Linked DNA regions of Homo sapiens: region 2 is linked to region 1. The links come from fine-mapping of genetic effects on gene expression. Tissue or cell type: testis. Region 1 holds a variant in brackets; the other region holds the start of a gene. All regions are shown on one strand. Distances are from middle to middle.

Evidence for each region. PIP is the estimated chance that this variant, and not a neighbour inherited with it, causes the effect.
Region 2: it holds the start of TMEM35A, and the variant in region 1 is fine-mapped to the expression of TMEM35A in testis (GTEx, PIP above 0.99).

Annotation. Positions count from the first base shown.
Region 1 is chrX:100,779,808-100,787,915 of GRCh38, reverse strand. No RefSeq gene overlaps it. Among named protein-coding and RNA genes, the nearest start is that of CSTF2, 37 kb to the left of the region's middle. The variant G/C (reference allele first, on the strand shown) is at 3,468.
Region 2 is chrX:101,074,881-101,082,971 of GRCh38, reverse strand. It overlaps TMEM35A (transmembrane protein 35A), which reads right to left and starts at 4,093. Exons shown (of 2, transcript NM_021637.3): 1 at 3,850-4,093. The coding sequence starts at 3,969.

The DNA of each region.
Region 1 (8,108 bases):
CACCTCACCAAGCTCAGCCTCCAACTTAAAAAGGACTGGACAATACTTTTACCACTTGCCCTTCTCAGAATTTGGGCCTGTCCTCGGGATGCTACAGGGTACAGCCCATTTGAGCTCCTGTATGGACACTCCTTTTTATTAGGCCCCAGTCTCATTCCAGACACCAGCCCAACTTGGACTGCACCCCAAAAACTTGTCATCCCTACTATCTTCTGTCTAGTCATACTCCTATTCACCATTCTCAACTACTCATAAATGCCCTGCCCTTGTTTACACTCCCAGTTTACACTTTTCCTCCAAACCATCATAACTGGTATCTCCTGGTTTTATCTCAAACCACCACCCTTAAATCTCTCTTGAAGTGGATAAAAGATCTTCAGTGGCAAGGCACAGTCCGGTACTTTCACCCTGATGAAGTCCTATTCTTTACTTTTTTACTCACTCTTATTCTCGTTCCCATTCTTATGCCACCCTCTACCTCTCCCCAGCTATCTCCACCACACTATCAATCTCACTCTCTCCTAGCCGTTTCTAATCCTTCTTTAACAAACAATTGCTGGCTTTGCATTTCTATTTCCTCCAAAATCACCGAGACTTCCGCTTACTCACTGCTTAAAAAAAGGGGACTCTATATTTTTAAATGAAGAGTGTTGTTTTCACCTAAATCAATCTGGCCTGGTATGTGACAACATAAAAAAACTCAAGGATAGAGCCCCAAAACTGACCAACCAAGCAATAATCACGCTGAACCCCCTTAGGCACTCTAATTAGATGTCCTGGGTCCTCCCAATTCTTAGTCCTTTAATACCTGTTTTTCTCCTTCTCTTATTCGGACCTTGTGTCTTCTGTTTAGTTTCTCAATTCATACAAAACTGTATCCAGGCCATCACCAATCATTCTGTACAACAAATATTGCTTCTAACAACCCCACAATATCACCCCTTACCACAAAATCTTCCTTCAGCTTAATCTCTCCCACTCTAGGTTCCCACGCTGCCCCTAATCCTGCTCGAAGCAGCCCTGAGAAACATTGCCCATTATCTCTCTATACCACCCCCCAAAATTTTTGCCACCCCAACACTTCGCCACTATCTTGTTTTGTTTTTCTTATTAATATAAGAAGACAGGAGTGTCGGGCCTCCTGACACTACCTACTCAAATCCTATAAAACTGCCCCACCCCTAACTCCCTTTGCTGACATCTTTTTCGGACTCAGCCCACCTGCACCCAGGTGAAATAAACAGCCTTGTTGCACACACAAAGCCTGTTTGGTGGTCACTTCACCCAGACACGCGTGACAGTGGTCTTCCCCACTTTTGCTACTTTGCAGCTACCACTGAAAATAGCTGTCCCATTCTGGTTGTTTGGTTTTTGTGTCTGCATTCTCCATCCTGGTTCACAGGTACACTAATTTGGGCATCTCAAAAGATCCCCATTTAGGCCATTGTAACTTAGAATCTGCTTTAGTTATAGTGGTCCGCTTGGTTAAATATTTGCATGATGATTCACCATAAGTATTTTGCATATACCCTGCTGGAGTTTCTAAGAGGGGAACTTTATATTCTGCAACTGCTGGGGTCTTAGAGGCCTTGTTCTCTATAATTTAGAGTTCCCCTTTGGATTTGACCAAGTTGGGATGTGTGTTGGACCCAAAATGTGCTGCTTGCAAACCTAGCTTTTCACAGGGCCATTACACCCTGAACCAGTTTGGTCCACCAGCGTTGTGGCCACCTGGCACAGTGTGTCAGGGGCTCAAAGTTTGGGAGGGGTCAGTTCCTTATATGCATCTGCTGGCTGAGATTAGACCCTAAGTATGTTCTTTTGAGGGGGAAACCTATTTAGAGCTGCTGCATGTCTTAGGGAGCATTTCTCCCAGAAACCCTCATGTGATTCTCAGTCGCCTGAGAATGCCCCAAAGGGCTGAGGGGAGCAATGTGTTCTGTTTCTTCAGAGTGGAAAATTTCACACTCATGAGCTTGAAGGTTCAGAATTGGTCAAATCCGATAGGGGAAAGGACCAAAACACACACACACACACATACACACACACACACACACACACACACACACACACACAGATATATATACACACACACACACACACACACAAACCCAGAAACAAAACAATTAAACAAAACTAACAATGATCACGCAAATTATATGATTTCTGAGCGCTCTAAGGGTAAGCAGGAAATTAACACCAGCTGGTTGTTAGTGCTAATTCTAGTCGTTTAAAAGAATTTGCAAGACAGAATTCCAAACCAGTTTCTTACCTAGTGATGGGGGCCCAAGCTGAAGATTGCTCTCTGCATATGCAGAAGCAGACAGGCTCGCCTTCCTTGATGGAAGTGAGTGGAAACGCCTACAAAAAAAGGAATTTTTGTTGTTTTTGTTGTTTTGTTTTGTTTTTAACAGCAAATAAACTTCAGACCCCCAACTGGAAAATGTTGGAAGATCAGAGATCCCTGGAAAGAGGTCCTCGACTTTGGCAAATTGTCCTCTCAGTTTGGGCTATAAGGTGACCAAGCCGGTGCCAAGCACTGAGAGGTGAGCTACTGCAGGCTGGGTCACTTTCACTCAGGATCCCTTCGTGGTTACCAGATGTCAATTGAGAAAAATGACAAGTCTCAATCATTTTAGGGGATTTATTTGCCAAAGTTAAGGATGCACTCAGGAGACAGGTCTATGCCTGTCTCCGAAGATGATTTTGAGGGCTCAAAATTTAAAGGGGAAAGGGTGCGATACTGAGAAGTACACAATTTTCATGTAAGAGGAGGGTAGGGAAAAATAGTCATTCATGCCTTTGTCTGGCTCAGGGAATCTGCATTAATAAGATGACATAAAAGAGGCAGAGGAAAAATGTGGGGAATATGCATTTTACATAAGATAACATGGACAAAATGGGGCAGGGGAACACTCAGATGTGCATTTATGTCTAGTGCGCCGGGGGCGACTGCACCTGTAAAGATAAGCTATCAATTTGCATTGCTACGGTGAAATTTTAACAACTCACTAGGAATTTCCTTGTGGGCAAAATATGGCGGAGGCATGTAGCTTTTCATCTTGTAGCCATCTTATTGAGGACCCAAAAGTGGGAGGCAGGTTTGCATGACCCAGTTCCCACTTTGACTTTTCCCTTTCGCTAAATGAGTTTGGCGTCCCGAAATTGAATTTCCTTTCACAGATTACATGGGGAAAGGAGGGCCTGGAGCTTCCTACTCTGCTATCTTTCAGATGTCACTCAAAAATGTATTCTATCACTTTTATAAACAGGGACACCAAAGCTCAGAGAGTGACTTGTACAATATTACATAATTAATAAAAATACAGCTGGGATTTGACTCTTTTTAATTTTTAAATTTTTATTTCTTTAAAATTTTTCAGGTTTTGTGATTTTTTTTAAAAAAGAAGCTTAGTATCTTGGAGTAATTTTAGATTTGCCAAAAAGTTGCTAAGATAGTGCGGAGA[G/C]TTCCCGTATCAGCCCACTTCCCTCCCTTTGGCCCTACACAGAGTTATTGTTTTTATTATCATCTTAGATTAGTATGGTACATTTGCTACAAGTAATAAACCAATATTGATACATTATTATCACTAAAGTCCATACTTTATTCAGATTTTCTTAGTTTTTATATACTGACTTTTTCTGTTCTAGGAGCCAGTCCATGATACCACATTGCATTTAGTTGTCATTTTTCCTTAGTTTCTTCTTGACTGTGACAGTTTCTAAGACTTGTTTTGATGACCTATTGAGGAGTACTCCTCAGGTATTTTGTAGAATGTCCCTCAATTGGGATTTGTCTTACGCTTTCCTCATGATTAGAATGGGATTATAAGTGTTTGAGAGAAAGATCACAAAGGTAATATTCCATTCTCATCACACCATATCAAGGCTTTGCTCAGCTAACCAAGGTAGTGTTTGCCAGGTTTTTCCACTATGAAGTTACTTCACCCCTTTTCCATACTCTATTTTTTGGAAGGAAGTTACCAAGTCCAGCCCACACTTATGAGGGTTTGATGGGGATTAAGTGCCACTTCCTGGAAGGCAAGTATCTATATAAATTATTTAGAATTCCTCTATAAGGAAGAATAACTTATTTTGTTGCTCAAATTGTTCCAACTTTGTCCATTGCAAGCTCTTTCAGGCTGGCTCCTGTGTCCATTTAGCATGCTCCCATAATTTTGTTTTTTGAGTACTTTCTTAAGTTGCCTCTAAATTTCATTCTAAACACCTATCTACCTCAGTTCAGTTCCCTTTACCCAGTACATCATGCCTTGCTTTGAACAGAAAAATTATAAGATATGCTAAAAAGAGAAAAAAAACCACAGTCTTGAAGAAACAAAGCAAGCACTAGAACCAGACTCAGATGTGGCAGATATTTTGGAATTATGGGACCAGAGATTTAAAGTAACTATGATTAATATGCTAAGGGTTCTGTCTTAGTCTGCTTGGGCTGCTATAACTTATACTGTAGGTTGCATGGCTTAAACAGCAGAAATTTATTTCTCACAGTTTTGGAAGCTGGGAAGTTTAAGATCAAGGTGCCAGTAATTTGGTTTCTGGTGATGGCCCACTTCTTGACTTGTAGATGGCCACTTTCTTGCTGTGTCTTCGTATGGTAGAGAGAGAGAAAACTGGCGTCTCTTCCTCTTATAAGGGCACTAGCCTTATTCAACTAAGGCCCTATCCTTATTACCTCATGTAACCTCTGTCACCTTCTCACAGCCCCTATAAATGTAAAACAGAAAACTACAAAGCTTCTAGAAGATAACATAGGAGAACATAGAGGTGACCTTGTGTTTGGCAATGAGTTTTTAGATACAACACACAAAGCACAATCCATGAAAGAAAAAATTGGCAAGTTAGACTTCATCAAAGTTAAAACCTTCTGTTTTATGAAAGACACTGTTAAGTAAATGAAAAGACACGACAAAGACTGGGAGAAAATATTTGCAGAAGACATATCTGATAAAGGACTGTTATCAAAAATATATGAAGAACTCTTAAAACTCAATAAGAAAATGAGCAACCCAATGAAAAGATGTGCAAAAGATCTGAATGGACATATGCCCAAAGAAGATATACAGATGGTAAATATGCATATGAAAAGATGCTCAACATATATGTCATTAGGGAATTGCAAAATTAAAACAACAATGAGATACCACTCCACACCAATTAGAATGGCTAAAATCCAAAACACTGATAACACCAATGTTTGTGAAGATGTAGAACAGAAACTCTTTCATAGCTGGTGGGAATGCAAAATGGTACAGATACTTTGGAAGATAGTTTAGCAGTTTCTTACAAAACTAAATATGCCTTAGGCATTTACCTCAATGAGTTGAAAACATATGTCCACACAAAATCCTACACAAAAGTTTTTGTATCAACTTTATTCATTATTGCCAGAAATTAGAAGTAATCAAGATGTCCTTTAATGATGAGTAAATTTAAAAAAAACTGTGGTATATCTATACAATGCAATATTATTCAGTGATAAAAAGAAATGAGCTGTCAAGCCACAAAAGACCCGGAAGACCCTTAACTGCATGTTGCTGAGTGAAAGAAACCAGTCTGAAAAGCCACATATTATTGTGATTCTAATGATATGATGTTCTGCAAAAGGCAAAACTATGGATATATTAAAAAGATAAGTGGTTGTGAGGGCTTTGGTGTGGTGATAGCAAGTGGGGAAAAGATGAATAAGTGGAGCACAGGGCATTTTCAGGACAGTGAAATTATGCTGGATGATACTGTAATGATGGATACATGACATATTAATACATTTGGCAAAACCCATAGAACTGTATAACACACAGAGTGAACACTAACATATGGACTTTAATTTATCAATATTGATTCACTGATTGTAACAAATATGCCACATTAACACAAATGTTAATAACAGGGAAAACTGGGGGCAGGGAGTAGGGGGTATATAGAGACTGTACTTTCTGCTCAGTTTTTCTGTAAACCTCAAACTGCTTTTAAAAATAAAGTCTTTTAATTTAAAAATTAATATCAGGGCTCGGGTGCGGGGGCTCACGCCTGTAATCCTAGCACTTTGGGAGGCCGAGGCAGGTGGATCACCTGAGGTCAGGAGTTTGAGACCAGGCTGGCCAACATGGCAAAACCCTGTCTCTACTAAAAATACAAAAAAAAAAAATTAGCTGGGTGTGGTGGCAGGAGCCTGTAATCCCAGCTCCTTGGGAGGCTGAGGCAGGAGAATTGCTTGAACCTGGGAGGCAGAGGTTGCAGTGAGCCAAAATTGCGCCACTGCACTCCAGCCTGGGCGATGGATACAAAAAGATATTCACCTAGGCACATTGTCGTCAGGTTATACAAAGTTAAGACCAAGGAAAGAATCTTAAGAGCTGTGAGACAGAAGCACCAGGTAACCTATAAGGAAAACCTATCAGATTAATAGCAGATTTCTCAGCAGAGACCCTACAAGCTAGAAGGGGTTGGGGCCCTATCTTCAGCCTCCTCAAACAAAACAATTATCAGTCAAGAATTTTGCATCCAGTGAAACTAAGCATCACATATGAAGGAAAGATACAGTCGTTTTCAGACAAACAAATACTGAGAGAATTTGCCATTACCAAGGCACTGCTACAAGAACTGTTTAAAGGAGCTCTAAATCTTGAAAGAAATCCTGGAAACACATCAAAACAGAATCTCTTTAAAGCATAAATCACACAGGACCTATAAAACAAAAATACAAGTTAAAGAGCAAAATCAAAAAACAAACCAAAGTACGCAGGCAACAAAGAGCATGATGAATGCAATGGTACCTCAAATTTCAATACTAACATTGAATGTAAATGGCCTAAATGCTCCACTTTTCTACAGAATTGCAGAATAGATAAGAACTCACAAACCATCTGCTGCTTTTCTGCATCCCTGGTACGAAACTTACTTGATCATGGTGGATTATCTTTTTGGTATGTTGTTGCAACTGGTTAGCTAGTATTTTGTTGAGGATTTTAGCATCTGTGTTCATCAAAAATATTGGTCTGTAATGTTCTTTTTTGGTATGTCCTTTGCTGGTTTTGATATTAGGGTGATGCTGGCCTAACAACACATAAGGACTCACATAAAGTAAAGGGGTGGAGAAAGGCATTTCATGCACATAGACACCAAAAGTGAGCAGAGGTAGCTATTCTTATATCAGACAAAACAAATTTTAAAGCAACAGCAGCTAAAAGAGACAAAAGAGGGCATTATATAATGGTAAAAGGCCTTGTCCAACAGGGAAATATCACAATTCTAAACATATATGTACTAAACACTGGAGCTCCCAAATTTATAAAACAGTTACTATGGGCCGGGCACGGTGGCTCATGCCTGTAATCCCAGCGCTTTGGGAGGCTGAGGTGGGAAGATCACCAGAGGTCGGGAGTTCAAGACCAGCCTGACCAACATGGAGAACCCTTGTCTCTACTAAAAATACAAAATTAGCCAGGTGTGGTGGTGCATGCCTGTAGTCCCAGCTGCTCGGGAGGCTGAGGCAGGAGAATCGCTTGAACCCAGGAGGCGGAGGTTGCAGTGAGCTGAGATCATGCCATTGCACTCCAGCCTGGGCAACAAGAGCAAAACTCCATCTCAAAAAAACAAAACAAAACAAAACAAAACAAAAAAACCTGTTATTAATAGACCTAAGAAATGAGATAGACAGTAACACAATAATCGTGGGGGACTTCAATACTCCACTGACAGCCCTAGACAGATCATCAAGACAGAAAGTCAACAAAGAAAAAATGGATTTAAACTATACTTTGGAAGAAATAGACTTAACAGATATATATAGAACATTTCATCCCAAAACTGCAGAATACACATTTTATTCAACAGCACATGGAACGTCCTCCAAAATAGACCATACAATAGGCCATAAAACGAGCCTCAATAAATTTAAGAAAATTGAAATTATATCAAGCACTCTCCCAGACCACAGTGGAATAAAACGAAATCAACTCTAAAAGGAACCTTCAAAATGATGTACATACATGGAAATTAAATAACTTGGTCCTGAATGAGCATTGGGTCAAAAACAAAATCAAGATGGAAATTAAAAAATTATTCGAACTGAATGACAATATTGACAC
Region 2 (8,091 bases), 300 kb before region 1:
TCTTGTTCTTCTAAATGCTTGATTTCAGGCTGGGGGTGGTGGCTCACACCTGTAATCCCAGCACTTTGGGAGGCTGAGATGGGTGGATCACCTGAGGTCAGGAGTTCGCAACCAGACTGACCAACACAGTGAAACCCCATCTCTACTAAAAATACAAAAATTAGGCAGGCATGGTGGCACGCACCTGTAATCCCAGCTACTCCGGAGGCTGAGGCAGGAGAATCGCTTGAACCCGGGAGGCAGAGGTTGCAGTGACCCAAGATCATACCATTGCACTCCAGCCTGGGCAACAAGAGCAAAACTCCGTCTCATAAATAAATAAATATATATATATGCTTGATTTCAATCCCTTAAACTAGCTATTTAAATCAGTTAGGAAACCACTCCATAAAACAGAATTACTTATCATAATCACCTCACCCAAAGCATTTCTTGAACACATACTATAGCAAACACTGTACCAGACACTTTTATACATAATCTCAGTTAATGTTTACAGCCTTCTAAGGTAGGCACTCCTTCCCCCCACCCCCCGCCCTTAGGATGGTCTGTTTCTTAAGTGGTAGGCATTCTTATCCCCATTTTAAGAATAAAGAAACTGAGACACCAAGAGTAGCAGGACCTGAACCCAAGCCTGTGTGACCATAAAGCCTGCACTCTTTCCACTAACCCTTGCTGGCTTCTCCAGTAGAAACAGGAGAAAAGTTCATAGTCATTTGTTTGGTTTTTTAGCAATGATTCTCCCTGGAGAAGATAACACCTAAGAATTACACAAATGATTTTAAAACAAGAAAAAAAATAGTTGGCAGAAAAGCAAAAAAAAAAAAAAAAAAAAAAAGAAAGAAAGAAAAAGAAAAAAGAAATCAAATCAAAAATCTAAATTTTAAAAATTGATTTTGTAGTAAAACAAAATTGAAAATATGCATTGGGCAGTTAAACTGGTACAATAAAAGGAGGAAGACTGTGCCAGGTGTTCTCAAGAATCGGTTGTCAGTTCTGGCATCCATAAAAACCAACAGTTTTAACCATTAATGATCTTTCTATTGGGAGTATTGAGTCATGGACTTGGTTTCTCATCTCTGCTCCAACAACAGCTTACCTTTCTGGCCTTGGATATGTCATTAAACTTGTTCTGCTTTAGTTTATCCATCAGTAAAATAAAAATAACGAATACACTAAATCTACCTCACAGACATGTTCTAAAGAACAAATAATCTTAAAACAACAACAGCAGCAACAACGCTTTGAGATCTTATAAGAAATGCCACTGCAGTCAATACATGACTAACCTCCTCGATGCAGAGGAATCCACTCCTTAATGGAAAACAAAAAATCCCAGATAATCATCCCAGCTGATCTAGGGTTGGGGTTCTGAGAGACTCTGCCTCTGAGAGACAGGGGCTTCTTAGAGAGTCCCTCTAAGAGGCAAGAAATGGCTCCTGAACTGCATAATCAAGAGCCAAACAGAGAAATCTGAAGGGTGGTAACAAGCCAAGGCAATGCTACAATGACTCATTCATTCACCCAACCACTCCACAAATACATATTGAGCACCTTCTCTGTACTAGAACTGAATTTCCCTCCCTTTCCTATGGGAACGAGAATAAAGCTGGGCCAAGCCCAGGCACTATGCAGTAGGCTTTATGCCAGAGAGCAATCTCCAGTCTATGGCCCGATGCTCAATGCAGGAGAGGACCCTGGAAAAGGGCAGTCTGAAAATCCTCTTCAAACTATTGTGACGTCTACTTCTCAGTTAGATACAATCTTTCCATTCCCTCTAGATGCCCCTAGCACAGAAGTGCAGAAGTGTGCATACACACCCACACACAATGGTTCTATATTGCTGTGTTACACTATATCTATTTAAATATGTTCCTATGTATGATATGAAATCTTCATATTTGTTTCTTCTGCCTTTCATTAGGCTGCACTAGACAGCTCCATTTCTAGGAAGAAACATACTGTAAACCCATTTGTGGCTGGTCCTCCTTGTGAGCTCCTGCTAAGCTGGTAGGAAGCTTCCCGGTGACTCCATCTTAGTTGGATTGCCTGCAGAGCCTAACACTGTACTTAGGGTGCAGCTTGGGGGGGCCTCTGAAGCAGCTGACTAGGGTCTGGAGGGCAGGGAGTATACTGAAGAAAGGTAGTGTGTCCCTAAGGCTAGGGAAAGCTTACACATACCTATGATGCACACACACAAATATATAAATATATGTACATATGAAAAGTAAAGCAAGAGCATGTTCATTTATTCATAATCTAACACCAAACTGCTACCACCAAGACAGAAATATAATGGCATTTCCCCTCCACCCTGTCCCTCTGTCCCAACCTCTTCAAGCCATTTGGTGGCTTCTGCTACCCCACCCTGTCCCTCTTCTCCCAGTGCAGGCTGCCTCGGGTACTCATTTTGACCTGATTTCAATTCCATCTGGTCAAACATGCTGGGAGGAGGGGAAGGGAGAAGGAGAAGCATGTAAGGATTTGCCACTGGGGCTAGACCTAAGCCCTTGTCACCCTCCCCAACCCTAGGGTGATCCTGCGGTGAGGAAGAAATGGAAAGCTCCAGCTTAAACCCTGAGACAGAAGCCAGAGCTGCCTGCAAACATTTTCTGAGCATCTATTAATATAATTTGCCAGTCTCCATCCATTTGCAGCTCACGTTAAGGGGCCCTGGAAAGCTCTGCAGTGGGTTCAGGAGAGCTATGAATTCCTCGCAATGTGTGAGGCTGTTCCTCCCTGCCTCAGCCCTAAAAGGGCTTGCCTCTTTTCTCTTTCCCCTTCTGTTCCTCCCCTAAGCTCCTTTCTCTCTTGACCTTGAGAGCCCAATGATGTGCTCCTTCCCATTATTGGAAGTCTGGCAAAGGCGACGAGAAGCAGCTGGGGTGGGGAAAAGAAGAGGCAAAGTGACAGGGGAAGAAGGGACAGACCCGAAAGTGCTGGAAACATTCCCTGCCATCTCCTAGTACTCCACAGCATAAGAGCAAGTCCTCATCACGCCCAACTGGGGAAAGCAGCCCAGCCCCCAGGTTGCAGAGGAGATGTTTTGGCCAGTCACCTTCCGTGATTGATTCCAACTCTGCAGAGGGGAAAACCTGCAGAGGGCCTGGCTCTGGTCATCCACAGAAGGCAAGGTGGGGATTACGGACTGTTTGCGGGAGAGAAAAAGCAGACTTTGCAGATTTTGTAGATTACCCCACACACAAAACAAAATAAAACAAAACATCTAGCTCTCCCTTGAGAGAAGGGGAAGAAACAAGAGCTTAGTGACCTTTATTTGGGCCAAGAATGCTTTGTCTCAAGGATCCAGATACATACCCAGGTGGCTGGAGGAATACTATCAGCTGTCTGCCTGGGATGAGGAATACCAGTCAGCCCCTAAAAATTGCTTGTTTTAGTAGCCCATTTTTCCCAGCTCTTTTCCTCTTTCCCTTTTGTTCTGCTCTAAAATAAATAAACTCTCCGCTTGCTAAACTCTTAGCTCACAGGGAGGGAATCAGACTTGTATACTGGTTGCCCGGACTTTGGGTGTGTGCTGGAAGGAGGGAAGGGCTCCTGCCAATGACAGGTGCTACGCAGGTCTCAGCCTTCTGGTTTACTTGGGATGGGGGGTATTCGCTGCGCAACCCCTCCCCCAACTGGCATTCAGTGGCTCCAGAACAGCATAGCCCACAAAAGAAATCGCTCTTGCCCAGCTGCTCCTTCCGAGCTGCAAAGTTGTTGAGAACGGAGGGTCCAGGTGGGGATAGGGGCTAAGGGGGTGGGACCAGAAACTGAGAAGGAAAAAAGGGGAGAGGTCCTCGCAATCCCATGGGAGTGCGCTCCTCATCACCCGTTTGCTTCACTTACCATCTCACTGTAGGCATCCTTGCTGAGCCTGGGGGTCAGCTTGATAGTCCCCATGAAAACAAAGAAGAGTCCCAGGGCCACTGAGAGGGCCACAATAGTTACGGTTCTGGGGGATGCCATGGGGTCGCCAAGGCAGGTCCCAACTAATCCTTCTGATTTGCGCACCCGCTCTGTCCAAGGTGCAGGCAGTTAGCACAGGGAGAGCTGGGGGGACGCTGCGGAGGCAGCAGGCAGCTAGAATGACAAAGGGAGAGGAGGGAGCTCGAGAGAAAAATTGAGAGATCGAGATTCAACCACTCTCACTACAACAAACGCTGGGTCCTAATGCCCTACGTGTGCTCACAGGCCAAAAGGACAGTCTCGAAGTTAAATGAAGCCCTAAAGGAAAGACGGAAACTTCAAATCTTAAATGGGGAGAAGGGAGGTTATGTATGAGTTCAGTCACCAAGTGACCCCAGGAATGAGGAATTAGGGAAGACAGGCTTTGCTGCCACCTTCCCACCGGGCTCACTTTTCATCTCCCCCTCCCACTTATCATCCTTCAGTTATTCACTCCCTTTTTCCATCTCTTCCTTTGTGTCCCCCTTTCCTTTTCCTAAATCAAAATATTAGCCCTCAGAGAGTTGTTTCTGAAGTTCGTAACACTCAAGGATAAAACTGCAAATTTGTCAGCCTTCAATGCTGCCAAAGAAGGCTTCCTCTTTCTCTTGCTCAGAAATCTTTAATGACTCTCATAGCCAGTGGTTAACTCCAGTTTTAAATTTGGAATTCAAGGCCCTCCACATTTTGACCCCTGTCTCTCTTTGGAGATTTAGTTTTCAATGGCTCCCACTGCCACACGCCACCACTCATCTATCTACTCACGGCCTCACACAACCTACGCCTTACCACCTCCTCTACCTTTAACTCCCTATCTTTTGACCCCGCCCCCCACCATCACTCTTCATTAGCATTAAACCTTTTCTTTAATGTCACCTCCTCTATAAAGCCTTTCCTGATCCATTGTCAGTTAGATATGATTTCTCCCTCCTCCAATTTTCTATAACAATAACCAATAATTGTCAACTGTTTACTAGATGCTAGACGCTGCCCTCTACTTGTATTAACTAATTTAATCTTTACAGCAACACTATGGACTAGGTATGAGTCCCCATGCTATGAATGGGCACATTGAGGGGCTGGGAAGGTAGGTAACTTGCCCAGGAGTATACAGCTAGTAAGTGGAGAGCCAGGCCTCAAACCTAGGCAGTCATTTCTAGGGCCCAGGCTCTTAACAATTGCTCTGCTGCCTCTCCTGTAATATTTTTCACTATTAGTGTGGTACTTAAAGTTGTTTAGCACTGTAAATGCTCACGCACACACACACAGAGTTTTGTTTTGTTTAGAGACAAAGTCTCACTCAAGTGATCCTCCATCTCAGCCTCCGGAGTAGCTGGGATCACAGGCACATGCCGCCATGCCTGGCTAATTTTTTTATTTTTTGTGGAGTCAGAGCCTTGTGATGTTGTCCAGGCTGATTTCTAACTCCTGGATTCAAGGGATCCTTCCGCCTCGGCCTCCCAGAGTGTTGCGATTACAGGCATGAGCCACGGAGCCCAGCCCTACACGATTTTTTTTTTTTTTGAGACCCTGCAGAGGGTCTCCCTCTGCAACCTCAACCTCGTGGGCTCAAGTGAGAGGCTCTCTCTTGTAGCTGGGACTACAAGTCTCTCAAGTAGCTGGGACTACAGGCACGTGTCACCACACCCGGGTAATTTATTTTTTATTTTCTGTAGACATGGGGCTACCTTATGTCAACCAGGCTGGTCTTGAACTCCTGGGCTCCAGCGATCCTCCTGCCTTGGCCTGCCAAAGCATTGGGATTACAGGCATGAGCCACCATGCTCAGCCCTAAACAATCATTTTTAATGATTGTATAAAACTTTAGCATCACTTGAATGTACTATAGTTCTCATTCATTTTGCATCCTATTGCTAGATATTGATGTTGTTTCCATGGTTTTTACTTTTACAAATAAAAATGTGATGCATGGCCAGGCGTGGTGGCTCACGCCTATAATCTCAGCAATTTGGGAGGCCGAGGCAGGCAGATCACCTGAAGTCAGGAGTTCAAGACCAGCCTGACCAGCATGGTGAAACTGTAACCTCCCAAGGGGTTCACCTTGCCCGCTGCCTAGACAGAGCCCATTCATCAAGACAGGGGAATTGCAACAGAGAAAGAGTAATTCACGCAGAGCCCACATGCGGGAGACCAGAGTTTTATTACTCAAATCAGTCTCCCTGACCATTTGGGGAGCAAAGTTTTTTGTTTGCTTGTTTTGTTGTGCTTTTTTGAGACAAAGTCTTGCTCTGTCGCTCAGGCTGGAGTGCAGTGGTGCAATCTAGGCTTGCTGCAACCTCCACCTCCTGGGTTCAAGTGATTTTCCTGCCTCAGCCTCCCCAGTAGCTGGGATTACAGGCATATGCCACCACACCTGGATAATTTTTGTATTTTTAGTAGAGACAGGGTTTCACCATATTGGCCAGGCTGGTCTCGAACTCCTAACCTCAGGTGATTTGCCCGCCTCGGCCTCCCAAAGTGCTGGGATTACAGGTGTGAGCCACCATGCCTGGCCGGGGAGCAGAGTTTTTAAGGATAACTTGGTAGGTCGGGGAAAGCCAGTGAGCCAGGAGTGCTGATTGGTCAAGGATGAAATCATAGGGAGTCAAAGCTGTTTTCTTGTGCTGAGTCAGTTCCTGGGTGGGGGCCATAAGATCACATGAGCCAGTTTATTGATCTGGGTGGTGCCAGCTGATTTATCAAGTGCAGGGTCTACAAAATATCTCAAACACTGATCTTTGGAGCAGTTTAGGGAGGCTCAGAATCTTATAGCCTCCAGCTGCATGACCCCTAAACCATAATTTCTGATCTTGTGGCTAATGTTAGTCCTACAAAGGCAATCTAGTCGCCAGGCAGGAAGGAGGTCTGCTTTGGGAAAGGGCTGTTACCATATTTGTTTAAACTATAAACTATAAACTACATTTCTCCCGAAGTTAGTTCAGCCTACCCCCAGGAATGAACAAGAACAGCTTGGAGGTTAGAAGCAAGATGGAGTCAGCTAAGTTAGATCTCTTTCACTCTCTCAGTCATAATTTTACAAAGGCGGTTTCAATCCCTCCCTTTGGGTTTTATAATACCTTAATCTTAAGGTATAGGCTATGAAGATGGGAAAAGGCCATCAATCACTCTGGCCTCTTCCTGCTGACAGGGGATGTAGTGGGATTGGGAGTGAACCCCAAGGTGAGAAGAGTGGAACTGCTTTACAATTAATTGTCTGAGCATACTCATGCCGGCCTGGTTGAGCTTCCAAGGCTTGTATGGCAAAAACATTAGTACTCTCATCTATAGTTTTACTACAGTGTTTAAGTGAACAGCCTATTTTACCTTATAAGGTAAATAATGAGTCCTAGGATGAGGAGTACAATTCCCAATTTTAAAAGCAGAGATTTGAAAGCATTAGTTTGGGGACTTCTAACCCACAAACAATTTAGAATTTAGTCTAAACTGCAGAAAAAAACTCAAGAACAGCTAACAACAGTGTACTATAGTTTTTTGAAGCATAATTTTTCTCTCTCCAGTCCCCATTTTTATTAAAAACAACATGATAGAACTGATTTGTTTACAAAATAAGCTTTAGTCTTACTGTATGTGGCCTGATTATTTGCATAAAGTGCAGCAAGAATATTTTTCACTTAGGGTTTTTTAATTGGCTTTGCTAGAACTCTGTTCCATGAAGAATCTCAGATAAGATGTTTTAAAAGCCGAGCCCAGCCGTGGGTTTGCACCCTCAAATACCTATGAGTTGGGCAAATTCCTCTCCTCTTGAGGTCCCAAGATAACTTGGGGTTCCTGGGCCTGTTAGAAAGTGACATTCTTTACTTACCACAGGACAGGAACCTTGCACAGGGACTCTGTGTGGATAAGGTATGAGGCCAGATGCCTCAATGGGCTTTAATTTGCTCTATAAGTCAACTTTGATTATTTAAAGGAAGCATGCCATTCCAGTCAAAGCCTTGGTAAAGTAACCAATTTCTCCAATTGTGTCCTGTTACAAAAGAAAACAAATTCTTATTGAATTTATGCAATTAACTATACTGCCATAAATTGAGAATACTCACAGATAGTTTCCAAATTCTGGAGAAATCAGGTAGAGAGGAACAAATATGCTCCAAATTTTGTCCACAGCAGTATATTTTACTCACT